4 separate regions of the Homo sapiens genome follow, and all the other regions are linked to region 1. The links come from fine-mapping of genetic effects on gene expression. A gene starts in region 1. Each other region holds a variant in brackets. All regions are shown on one strand. Distances are between the middles of the regions. Region 1 holds the start of TSPAN11 (tetraspanin 11). Region 2 overlaps TSPAN11 (tetraspanin 11). Region 3 has its middle 63 kb from the start of TSPAN11. Region 4 overlaps TSPAN11 (tetraspanin 11).

Region 1 (2,683 bases):
TCTGGAAAGTCAAGGTGCTCTAGGCAGACTTAAAGACATCAACGCCAGTTTTCCTCTTGTTCTGCAGCACTCACACAAGAACTATGGGGAATCACACAGGCCTGTACATATTTTACACACGAGTCCAAAGGTGGGTATAAAATTCCTGCTATGCTGAATATAGTGGGAAACAGCACACAAATGCCTCCCTCTGCTACCCACAAACCAAACAGCTCTGGGCCACCTAAGCCCTCGCCAGACCACCAACTTGGCCCCTGTAGGCCAGTAGTGCCCCTTACCCTAGGAGTCTTAACTATCATCAAAGCATTTCCAGGCATTAATTGGAGCCTCCAGTCCCTTGGGAGACAGATGGGGCCAGTGGTTATTAGTCCCATTTTGCACAAAAAGCAACTGAGCCCCAGATGACCTATCTGTCCAGGGAACAATGCTACTGACACAGTGACAACCATTAAGTTCTGATTCAAACCTGTCTCCAGCCTCTAACTGCTGCTTTCCACTGCAATCCAGCTGCCCACAAATTGAACACAGACTATCCACTTTGGCCTAATACCACCCTCATTCTCTTCTTCACGCTCCCCCACACACACCCTATGCCCCAGAGTGCACTTATGAGTTTTTCCAGAAGCTGCCTCTTCTCCTCACCCCCCACCCCCACGCTCACCTCACAATACTTGCCACGAACTGGAGACCTCTGGAACACTTATTCCTCCTGCACACAGCAGCTTAGACTCAAGTTAAGATGCTGTCCCGCCAAGCCCAACTGGGCTGCCTCCCTTTCATACTTTCCACCAATTCACACATGTGCACACTGCACATATGGCTGGTGAAAAGGATACACCCCAGAACCTTCCATGCCTTCTTTCCACACGGAGCCGGCCAACTGCACATGCAGGGATGGGCACGAAAACACAGGTGACAGGGCCTACACAGCCATGTTGTCACAAATACACAGACGTGCCCAGAACATGAGGACATCCCTGCACAGGCAGACAGGCCCTCTGAAAGCAATGTGCACCAGATACAGCATTTTGGTGTAGCCATGAGAGGCAGCTACTCGAATTCAGGGTGGACAAAGAATGACATTTTCAAGAGGAACAGACATGCCCCGGGCACGCTGGACGGCACGAGGCCCTCAGAGGCCCAGAGCTCTCTCCCAAGGCACAAGTGCAGAAAGGCAGACTCATGCGCATAGTTATGGACACCGTGTTGCGTGTCCCATGCAGACACCAATACCTGCTCACATGCCCCGCGAGTGTCCCAGGCATTCCTGCCTCCTCCACTCCTCATCCCCAGCCGGCTTCCCTCTGCCCGCCCGGGGGAAGCTCGGGACAGTCTAGCTCGGGACTGCCGGCGGGGCGGGCAGCGGAGGTGGAGGCGCCTCTCCTGGACCCCCAGCCCCCTCCCGCGGCGCCCCCACTCCTCGGGCGCGCTTCTGCACTTACCCTGCCAGGGGCTCCGGAAGCGGCGAAGGGAGCTGCGCCTAGAGAGACTGAGAGCGGCGGCTCCCGGGGCCGCCCAGCCGCCCACCGCCCGCAGCCAGCGCTCCTCCCTCCCAGCCCGGGAAGGTCAGCGTGTGGGCAGCCCGGCCCGCGCCCCTGCGCCCACTGAGGCTTCCTGCCGGCCCTCTAGTCCCCGCCTGCCCAGCGCTCGGCCGCGACGCCCCGGCGCCGGCTCTCCCAGCCCAGCCGGCAGGACGCGCCCGGGAGCCCCGCACGCGAGCTGCCGGCTCTTTGTTTGGGGGTTTGCCTCTCTGCGATTCAGAGCACGCGGAGGGAATTAAGTCAGAGTCCGAGGCAGCTGTGCGGTTGCCGGGGGGATCCCTAAGGGGGGCGGGGCAAAAGGACGGACTAGTAGGGCGGTGGAGCGGCTTTCAAACTCCCCGCGCTCCGCAGCTCCCCGCTTAGGTCTCCCTGCCCTTTACGTTTGTCGGCCCCTGGGAGAGGTTGGCCTTTGGGGGTTTCCAGGGACCCTAGGGACAAGCCTGTCTGATAAGAGAGAGGTTCTCCATCCCCCTTCCTCACCAGCCCCCATCACTGCCGTGTCCCTCTTAGAGTCCTGTGGAGCATCAGCTTTACATTTCCTGGGCCCCGGGGAGAATCAAGGTCTCTCTAATCTGAAGCAAAAAGGAATAACAGAGAGTAGAGCCCATCTGTTCCTGCTGAGTCCCTGTGAAGGTGCAAAGCTGGCCCTAACGGGACTGGCCCTAACAGTGGGGCATGGATTATCTATTTCCCAAAGTAACAAGGGCCTTGTGCTTATCCAACCGTGTTCTTTTGAAACTTAGCTGCAGTGAGGAAGATTACCCATTTACCAGGTTGCTAGATCAGGGAAGCCACTGGAGGCAGGGGACGCTGACAAAGCCACTGTACCGGGAGCACCAACGTTCTAAATACCCCAGCTGGCTGCTGAGAAGGGCTTCGCGGGGGGCCACACAGGAAGGAGATGATTCCAATAGTCCCGTGAGATGAGGACCTTAACTGGGGGATGAATGCGGAAGCTGCAGCAAAGGAGAGTCTACAGACTGTGTGGTGTAGGAGGAGCACACTGGGGCTGTAACATTGTGGAAGTCTGGAGGAGAACCTGGAGTGATGTGACTGAGTTTAGTGTGGAGCAAGTTGGATTGGAGAAGCAGGCCACCTTCTTCCAGGGGCAGATATCCAGCAAATGCAATTGGAAGGGTGAT
Region 2 (2,683 bases), 49 kb before region 1:
ATGGGCCTTGCCCAACCATCTCCTGCACGACTCAGCAGGGAGCCTGGCATGGGCAGGGATTAAGGAATACGGGAGAGGGGCCATTTCTTTTCACAGGAAAAGAACTGTGGTCCAAGAGCAAGGTTTCCTTTCAAATGAAGTGCATTACCCACCTCCTCATTGCAATTTTACTGTGTCCTATAGGCTCCCAGCATCAGGGACACAGAGTTTCCAGTCTCAGAATAACAGTGTCAGGCCTAGCCCCATCATTTGTGGGGCCTGAGGCCAAGAGCACAAATGCAAGGTCCCTGCCCCTTCCTTTCCTACCCCAGGCTCTTCGCTGCATCAGGAAAAACCTCCAGCTCTGTGTGCCCCTCCCCCAGGGTCAGATGCCCCTTGCGGGATGGGAGGTGTGTGGAGAGGGCTGGGTGTGGTGCAGGCTAGGGGCACATATGCCAGGGGTCTAGTCAGCCTCAGGACATGCTTGCAGATGCTGCCTGCAGGCACAGGTTGTCTGGACAGAGGATTCACTCTCCTGGGTCCCTGGGAGGAGGTCAGGAAGTGGCGGGAGGGAGTTGCAGATTCCACAAGGGGATGTTCCCTCTGCCCTACGGACTTTCCACTCCCTGGGGAGGAGTGTGGTTGAAGGGGGCCTCAGGACAGGGGCCTGGGTCTGCGTGTGGTACTGAGTGGTATGCAGGGTAAGCTGAGGCAGGAGGCTGAAGAGAGCGTCTGTGGATGGTCCTCCTGCTTGAGGAGCCTCTGAGAAGCAGGGCCCAAACACTGAGGAAAGCTGGGGGAAATGTCAGTGGACTTGGGTTGGGTCCAGGCTCCACCACATGCTGGCTCTAGCTGGATGGCTGCTAGTGCTTAGGTGCAAATTAGAAAAACGTGGCTCAGCAAGAGTTGCATGGGCTGGATTTCAGCCTTCTTTGGTCCCCTCGTGTAGGACGCAAAGTTTAGGGACAAGGAGGACCCAACGAGGGGGAAATGTACTTTCCAGTGATCTAACCCGCCTCCTGCCCTCCCAGAGCTCCAGGTCCCACAGCATGAGGGGTACGGTCCCTGTCAGCCAGAGGCAGGCGTAGCCAGCCCATGCCAGAGTGTGATCCCCCTGGGAGAAGCCCGGCCCATCAGACAGAGCATGGCTACACATTCACCCTCACCCCACCCAGGGTGAGGCATCCTTGTTTCTGAGTCTCCTTGACTCAGGGGCTCTCCCCTGCCATGCGCTGCTGGGCCC[T/C]GCGGCTCCTTTCTGACATGCGTGCCCTTCCTGCCTGCTCCAAACTTCCCTCCACCATCCTCAGCTACGGTGCTGAGGCCGGATCCCTCCTGCTGCACAGGACCTGAAGGCATTGATGCCAGTGGCTCCCAGAGACCTCTGGGGCATGGGAGGAAGAGGTGATGGAGTGCCCCTGACAGGAGCACCCAGGCTGCTGGCAGCTAGGAGAGCCACATCCTGGCATCTCTCCACCTTCCTTCTCTCCACCACCACTGTGAGCTGTGAGTCAGGCCCGTAGGATACTCCTGGATAGCTGGCAGTGTCACGCCACTTCTCGGGGGAAGCCACTGCCCCAGTTACTATTGAAGACGGGGTGGGGAACAGGGAGGATGGGGAGGTAGAGATACTGAACCTCACCCATTGGTTTAGTGGCTGGCTAAATTAGTACATGCTACCCCTGCACAGGCTGGTTCAGAGGCATCAAACAGGCTATCTGACCTGCGGAGTGGTCAGGAGGAGGGGAGAGAGCTTGGCAGTGGCGGTGGTGTGTGGGGATAGCCTTCTCGAGCTCCAGTGTGTTAAGATGCCTGGAAGGGGAGTGAGGGCCTGGCCTGGGGCTTCAAGGGGACTGAGGCCGGGTGCTGGTGGGCACAGGTGCTGGCTCCAGGCAGCAGCTTCCACAGCAGGGAGGCTGCGGGTGTGTGACTCACCTGGACAGGTGTGTGACAGGCCCAGGAGGCAGGCAAAGGGTCCCTCATCAAGATGCTGGGACTTCAGCCGGGTGAGGTCATGGGCTCTGACAGACCTGTCACCTCTGCCCCTCCACCCTGCACCTTACCCAGCCTTTCCTGACTCCCTGGGTCCGGCGCGATCATCTCAGGGCCCCTGCGGCACACGCTGGCTCTGTGTGCAAAGCTGAAAAGTGTTCCTGGTGTTGCTGCACACAGTTCTCTTCACACAGGCCAAGCGTCCAGCCTTTGGGCCTTTGCCCTGCCTGTCCCCCTGCCTGGAATGCTGGTGCCTACCTGTCCTTCCACACCCAGCTCGGCTCAGTCTTGGCTCCACCAGGCTATCCTTGGGCAGGAGCAACTGCCACTCCCCACCGTCTGAATGCCTGCAGCGCGTCATCTGCTGTCTCCTGACACCTGCACTCTCTGCTTTGCCCTTCTCTCCTCAGCTGGACTGGGCTTCACCTCTGTGTCCCTCCCCTTCGCCTGCCGTGCGGTTCCTCAGTGTAGGTCATCACCGGATGAGTGACACAACTTTACCCATTGCTCCGTAGCACTGCTCTTGCTTCAGGTGTTACCACTCTGTCCCCTAGCATGACTGTGAGCTTCGGAGAAACAGGGACCACATCTGAGGTTGCTTCTGGCTCCTCCACAGTGCCTGGTATGGTGCTGGGTCTAGACATAACGCTTAGCAGACATCCCCTGATAAAGACGCAGGAGTGCACTTTCTAATAAAGTACACCTATGAGACAGC
Region 3 (2,683 bases), 63 kb after region 1:
GTAGTGTTGAATGAAAAAGTGAGATATATAACCCAATATCACTCTTATTAAATAAAAGCACATACATTCTCAAAAATGTTAGGTATTCTTCAGTGAAAGGACATTTGAGTGGGTCCCTGTGGGTAGGAGTGGGAAGGGGAGATGAAGGGAAAAATGATGGGGCTTGCACACAACTGTGAGATCATCTGCCATGACCCAGAGAGGAGAAAGCTGAGCTTTCTGAATTGGAGGTTCAGTTGTTAAGAAGGAAACCACCATCATTAAAATCTTTTGGGACTGTTGAGTAACCCAGAGTAAGGTTGCTCAGAAAAGAGAGAAGGCTAACACTGAGGTGCTCCCGAGAGGCTCCTACATTGACCCCATTCTCTGAGGGTTACTAGGCACAAGCAAGAAAAGATAGTAGGGAAATGCAGATTTTATCAATTCCCATTCACTGTTATATATCCACATGCACAGAATTAAAAGCAGGCCAACATTCTTCATGCTATCTAAAAAAGGTTTCTGGGCCACCTTTCCTCACTGCTATTTCCTAGACATGCTAATTTCAACATAACCTTAAGCAACATAAAATCAGGGAGCAAAAGCTATTTAAACACACATACCATAAAATGGCACTCTGTCCAGATACCCTACAGATTCTTCAGTCTTTTCCCTCTCACAATGGGAGACGGTTGATATAGCAAGTTACAGAAGGAGCTTCCCAGAAAAAGAAGCTGAGGGCAGGGGTTATTTCCAGACACTGGTGCCCAGAAGCCACTGATCAGGATGTGTGTTCAGGGGACGTGTGTGTTGTGGGGGACGGTGAACATGGATGAAGCCCCATTTTTTAAAAAACTCAGATCCCAGCTGAGACTCCCACAGGGTGCAAGGGTTTACATGAGGCCATGATTAAAAGGCAGGACTGACTGGGGGGGCTCAGGAGGAAATGTTCCCAACAGGGTGCTTGACTACTGTAGCCCAGTGGAATTCTTCACTTTCAGGCCAGGCAAAGGTCATGAGGCAGAGGCATCTCTGGAGAAGTTTGCTTTGCTTTGCTCTTTAAGCACTGCAGAAAGAGCATTGGATTGGGGAATAGAAGACTTTCTTGTCTTTACTCTGCCTGTTCCCAGCTGTTTGAGTCTCTGCTATTAAACAGGAAAAATTAGGCCAGTCCTGCCTACTCAAGGGAAGGGGGGATAGGTTGTGAGGTTCATGAAGTTAAACG[T/C]GCATAAATGCTTTTAAATCTGTCAAGTGCCATATGGCTGTAGAAATGACAATGTCATGTGCTTTGATCTGCGCCTTCTCTGAACCACACAGGCTTGTGAGTCCTTTCCTAGTCCTAGGATGGGAGTTAAGCTTGATGTATTTCATCTGCAGGAAAATGAAGGATTGGTCCTGGATGACACCCTGCATCCGCAAAGAAACTGAGGCCCAATATCCAATTTATTCCTCCTTAGGAGGAATGATTTTGGGGGTTAGGGGAGGATGGCATGTGTTCAGAATGGAGAGTTCACACCTGTGATGAGGTTGGGTGAAGGCTTGGCCTCAGTTGCCCTGTGACTTTGCGTGAATGTTACTGGGTGCCTCAGGCTCTGCTCACCTACTTATAAAATAAGTAAAAATATCCCCCTCCCCATCCTGACTGTGTGAAGATGGTTAGGATCCAGTTACACACTGAGTTCATCTAAGTCCTGGAGAAAGATTCAGCTTTTCTTGTTGCGCATCTCCATCACCTTCATCTTTGGCACTCACTTGCTTTTAAAACGCCTTAATACAGTAACCACAGAAACAGTGGGTGACTTTCAAGTCCATGCCTTGGAAAGTCAAAAGTTCTCCATCTTTTCACTGCCCAGCAGCCCCAAGTGAGCCAGGCGCTGAGCTACTGTGATAAAATTTTGGTTTCATCCCTCAGAACCTGGGTCACCATTTGCTTTCTTCTTCTTTTTTTGTTTTTGAATGAGCTACTATTGTCAGAATGCAGGAGATGTCTGTTAATAAACTAAAGATTTCATGCCACCAGTGATTTTTCTAAGAGGAGACCAGAATGCAGCTGACCAGTCTTACTTGTCTCCTTTTGTGTTGAGAAGTTTTGACTGGGTACATGGTCCTTATTGGGTTTTGGGGCTGCTAATATGATTTTGCTGCCTGGAAACGCAAAAGCCATGAGTCAGTTAAGAAGCAAGGTGAAGCTATTTCCAGCATCTCCCAGTAAGGATGGAGGCCTGGGTGATGGTAGAAATGAATCTAGCAGGCAAGGCTGTTCTTTCTCTCCAGGGATGCCTCAGCCTCTGTGGCAGAGCGATACTTTATCTTTGGACGCACAGGCTCTGCATTCCTGCTTCTGGGCAGCCTGCCCAGCTAGTGTCCCAGCGGACGGGGAGATTCAGTAGGTTCAATTTGATTCAATTCAGCAAACATTTACTCACCTCCTACTGTGTCCAAAGTAGACAAAAATAAAGGTCTTCTTTTTTCTTTTAGATTATGAAAATGAAGTATTCTTGTTCTAACATTTTAAGTGTTAAGCTGGAAGGCCACCCCCTTACCCCTTCAACCACACCTCCCTGAGGTACTCAATGTTGAGGTTGCATTATTATTATTATTTTTGTTATTTAGTTTTTATTTCATAATTATAAACTTAACTTTGCAATCCAGCTAGGCATGGATGGAAACAAAACATGGAACCCAAAGGAATTGCAGTGAGAGC
Region 4 (2,683 bases), 26 kb before region 1:
CCAGAGCCAGAGCATCTTGGCAAGGCTCCCTTCAAAGGGCTCATTAACCTATCTGCCGGGGGCTTTGAGGCTCTGCATGTGCAGCATGGAGCAAAGATGTGGGAATTGCTAAGGAGACCAAATAGAGGTGAATTGGGGCAGAATCTTCCAGACCTTTAGATGTCAGTTTTGTCCTCTTGACAAAGGTCTAACCTACAAGTCTCCCACAGAATTTGCGCTGGTCTTACTGTGTTCTTAATCTCTTTTCCTGTCTCACCAGGGTTGCAGGACACAAGTTTACCTGTCCTACACGCACACACACACTCAGCATCACTACTTTGCATAGGAAACTTGCACTCTGCATCATTTGAACAGGACTCTGCATCCACAGGTGTGGCCTGAGCCCCAGAGCAGAGCACCTGTGTTGGAAAGGGCCCCAGTGATCACCCAGTCCACCCCACCTGGCCGCTGCAGCTTGACTTTTCAGATGAGGAAGCAGGCCCAGACAGGCCTGGTGGTTTGGCAGGAAGAAGCACAAGAGCCTCTGGAGTCTGACTCTCTGGGTTCACACCCTGATCTGTCACAAGATGTGTGATACTTTGGGCAAGTTACATGACCTCCCATCCCTCAGCATTCTCATCTGTAAATGGGGATAATAATGACACATATATCATAGGGTTGTTTTGAAGATTAAATGAAATAATCTATGTGAAGTGTTTAACATAGTCCTTGGCATGTAATAAGTGTTCAATGTTAGCTATTATTACATGTCAAAGAACTGGGGCTAGAGCCTAAGACTCTAGTCCTAAAACTCCCGTCTTTACCCCAGCACCATGCTGTCCCTCGCTCTGATGCCCACTGATGGACTCTCTGGGAAGTATGACATCAATGGTGGTGATACAGGCAGAGAGGGCCTACTGTGCCTGGTAATCCTGTTTGCTTCTCAGTCTGAACCTCAGAAAGTCTGAAGCCTTTGTAGTTTCCTCTTCTCCTCGAGCTGCATGTGCCCCTGGGCACCTGCACACCCACACTCACAGAGTAGTTGCTCTTTAAGAAATTACCCCCATTTTGGGAACCTCTTTTTATTTCAGAACCATAAGCAATGAGGCATGGCTTATGCTTATTCAGGCAGACGATCAGCCAGTCGTCCTGTTCAGTCTTATAATGGACCATGGCTGCTGGGCCTGCAGAGAAGACACACATGCCGGGCCAGGGGAATTTAGCATTTCCATCTCTTCCTCCATTATTTCCAACCCCCAACTGGACCATCCTTTCATCCTATTCTTGCCTCCTGGGCTGGTGCGTGACCACGCCCCAATTATTTCCTCTGAGCCACTGTTCTGCCTCTTATTTCAAGCTCATGGGCTCACTGAGACAGGAAGAAAGGAAGAGGGAAAAGACAATGTGGCTGACTTATTTGTGATTTCTATTTGCAGAC[G/A]TTGAAGAAGGTAATTTAAGACTGCTAGTCTTCTCGTTAAGAAAACACAAAACTCATTTTTCTCCAATTCAGTTTTCGAGGTAGGGTGGTGGAATAAATATAAAAGGAGAAAAAAAGGAAGCCTGTAAGAAATGTCCGTGGATGGGGTCGGCCAGGGGATCTAATGGGAGCGATTTCACGGCCATTATGCAGTCAGTCCTGACAAGAGACCAGGTGCAGCGTCTCCTGGGCCACCGCAGGCCCTTAGCAAGTGGCAGAGTTTGTGGGGCCTGGCCACTCCTGTCTGCAGTCTCCCTCCCCTCCCAGGCAGGGCCACTGGACTTCTGCCCCAGAGCTTTCTCTCTACTTGCAGCAAAGAGGCCTGATTCACTCACTCAAACCACAGAGTCAGGGCCCTGCCCTCTAAAGGAAAATTGTATTTTTTAAAAAGAACTTCAGGCAGAAGACAAGGCTTAAGGAAAAGAAACCATTCTAATGGTAAAATTTCAGTCATTAGTGGTGGGGAAAATAGAACCACAAAATGTCAGGGTCAGGGGAAACCTTTGGGCTCACTTAATTCAATCTTCTGCAGAAAGAATGAGGAATTTTACATATTTAAGATGCATATTTAAAAATGACTTTTCTAAGGTCACATGGCTAATCTGTAGTTGAGTTTCCTATTCTCCACCATTCAGTGCTCCTTTCCCCTAACACCATATTTGGGGCCCAGGGTGGCAGAGGCTCCAAAGAAGTGTCAGTACCAGCCTGCAGCCAGATGACTGGATCTGAAAGCTAGCTTTGCCATTTTACTGGCTGTGTGACCTTGGGCAAGTTATTTAACCTCCCTGTGTAGCTAGTATTTATGGAACACTTACTATGTGCCAGGTACAGAACTAAGTGCTTTACACTCATTATTTCGGTCCATCTTCCCAATACCCCTATGAAATAGGGTTATTTCCATTTCATAATATAATCGAGGTTTAGACAGGTTAAATAATTCATCCAAAGTCACATAGCAAGTACATGACAAAGCCAGAGCTGAATAAAGAATCTCTGCCTCTGGGCTCAAGCTTTTACCCACTGTGCAATACTCACAGGACCAGATCTACCAGGGCAAAGGAGGAAGGGGAGCGACCAGAGACTGCTGGTTCCCCTAATATTTGTTAGAATATTTGTTAGAATAGAACTTCTCAATTTTAGTTAGATACTTAGTCACCTGGAACAGACAACATTTCCCAGCCTCCTGTCCTGCTAGGTATAGCCAGGATTCACTGCTGGCCAGGAAAT

Evidence for each region. PIP is the estimated chance that this variant, and not a neighbour inherited with it, causes the effect.
Region 2: its variant is fine-mapped to the expression of TSPAN11 in prefrontal cortex (GTEx, PIP above 0.99).
Region 3: its variant is fine-mapped to the expression of TSPAN11 in spleen (GTEx, PIP above 0.99).
Region 4: its variant is fine-mapped to the expression of TSPAN11 in nasal epithelium (TOPMed, PIP above 0.99).

Annotation. Positions count from the first base shown.
Region 1 is chr12:30,925,556-30,928,238 of GRCh38, reverse strand. TSPAN11 (tetraspanin 11) reads right to left here and starts at 1,491. Exons shown (of 8, transcript NM_001370302.1): 1 at 1,443-1,491. It overlaps LOC124902911 (a long non-coding RNA gene), which reads left to right and starts at 1,550. Exons shown (of 2, transcript XR_007063264.1): 1 at 1,550-2,683.
Region 2 is chr12:30,974,551-30,977,233 of GRCh38, reverse strand. All of the region lies in intron 3 of TSPAN11 (tetraspanin 11), which reads right to left. Among named protein-coding and RNA genes, the nearest start is that of TSPAN11-AS1, 30 kb to the left of the region's middle. The variant T/C (reference allele first, on the strand shown) is at 1,223.
Region 3 is chr12:30,862,287-30,864,969 of GRCh38, reverse strand. No RefSeq gene overlaps it. Among named protein-coding and RNA genes, the nearest start is that of TSPAN11, 63 kb to the left of the region's middle. The variant T/C (reference allele first, on the strand shown) is at 1,205.
Region 4 is chr12:30,951,241-30,953,923 of GRCh38, reverse strand. The region is part of intron 1 of TSPAN11 (tetraspanin 11); the gene reads right to left. Among named protein-coding and RNA genes, the nearest start is that of TSPAN11, 26 kb to the right of the region's middle. The variant G/A (reference allele first, on the strand shown) is at 1,418.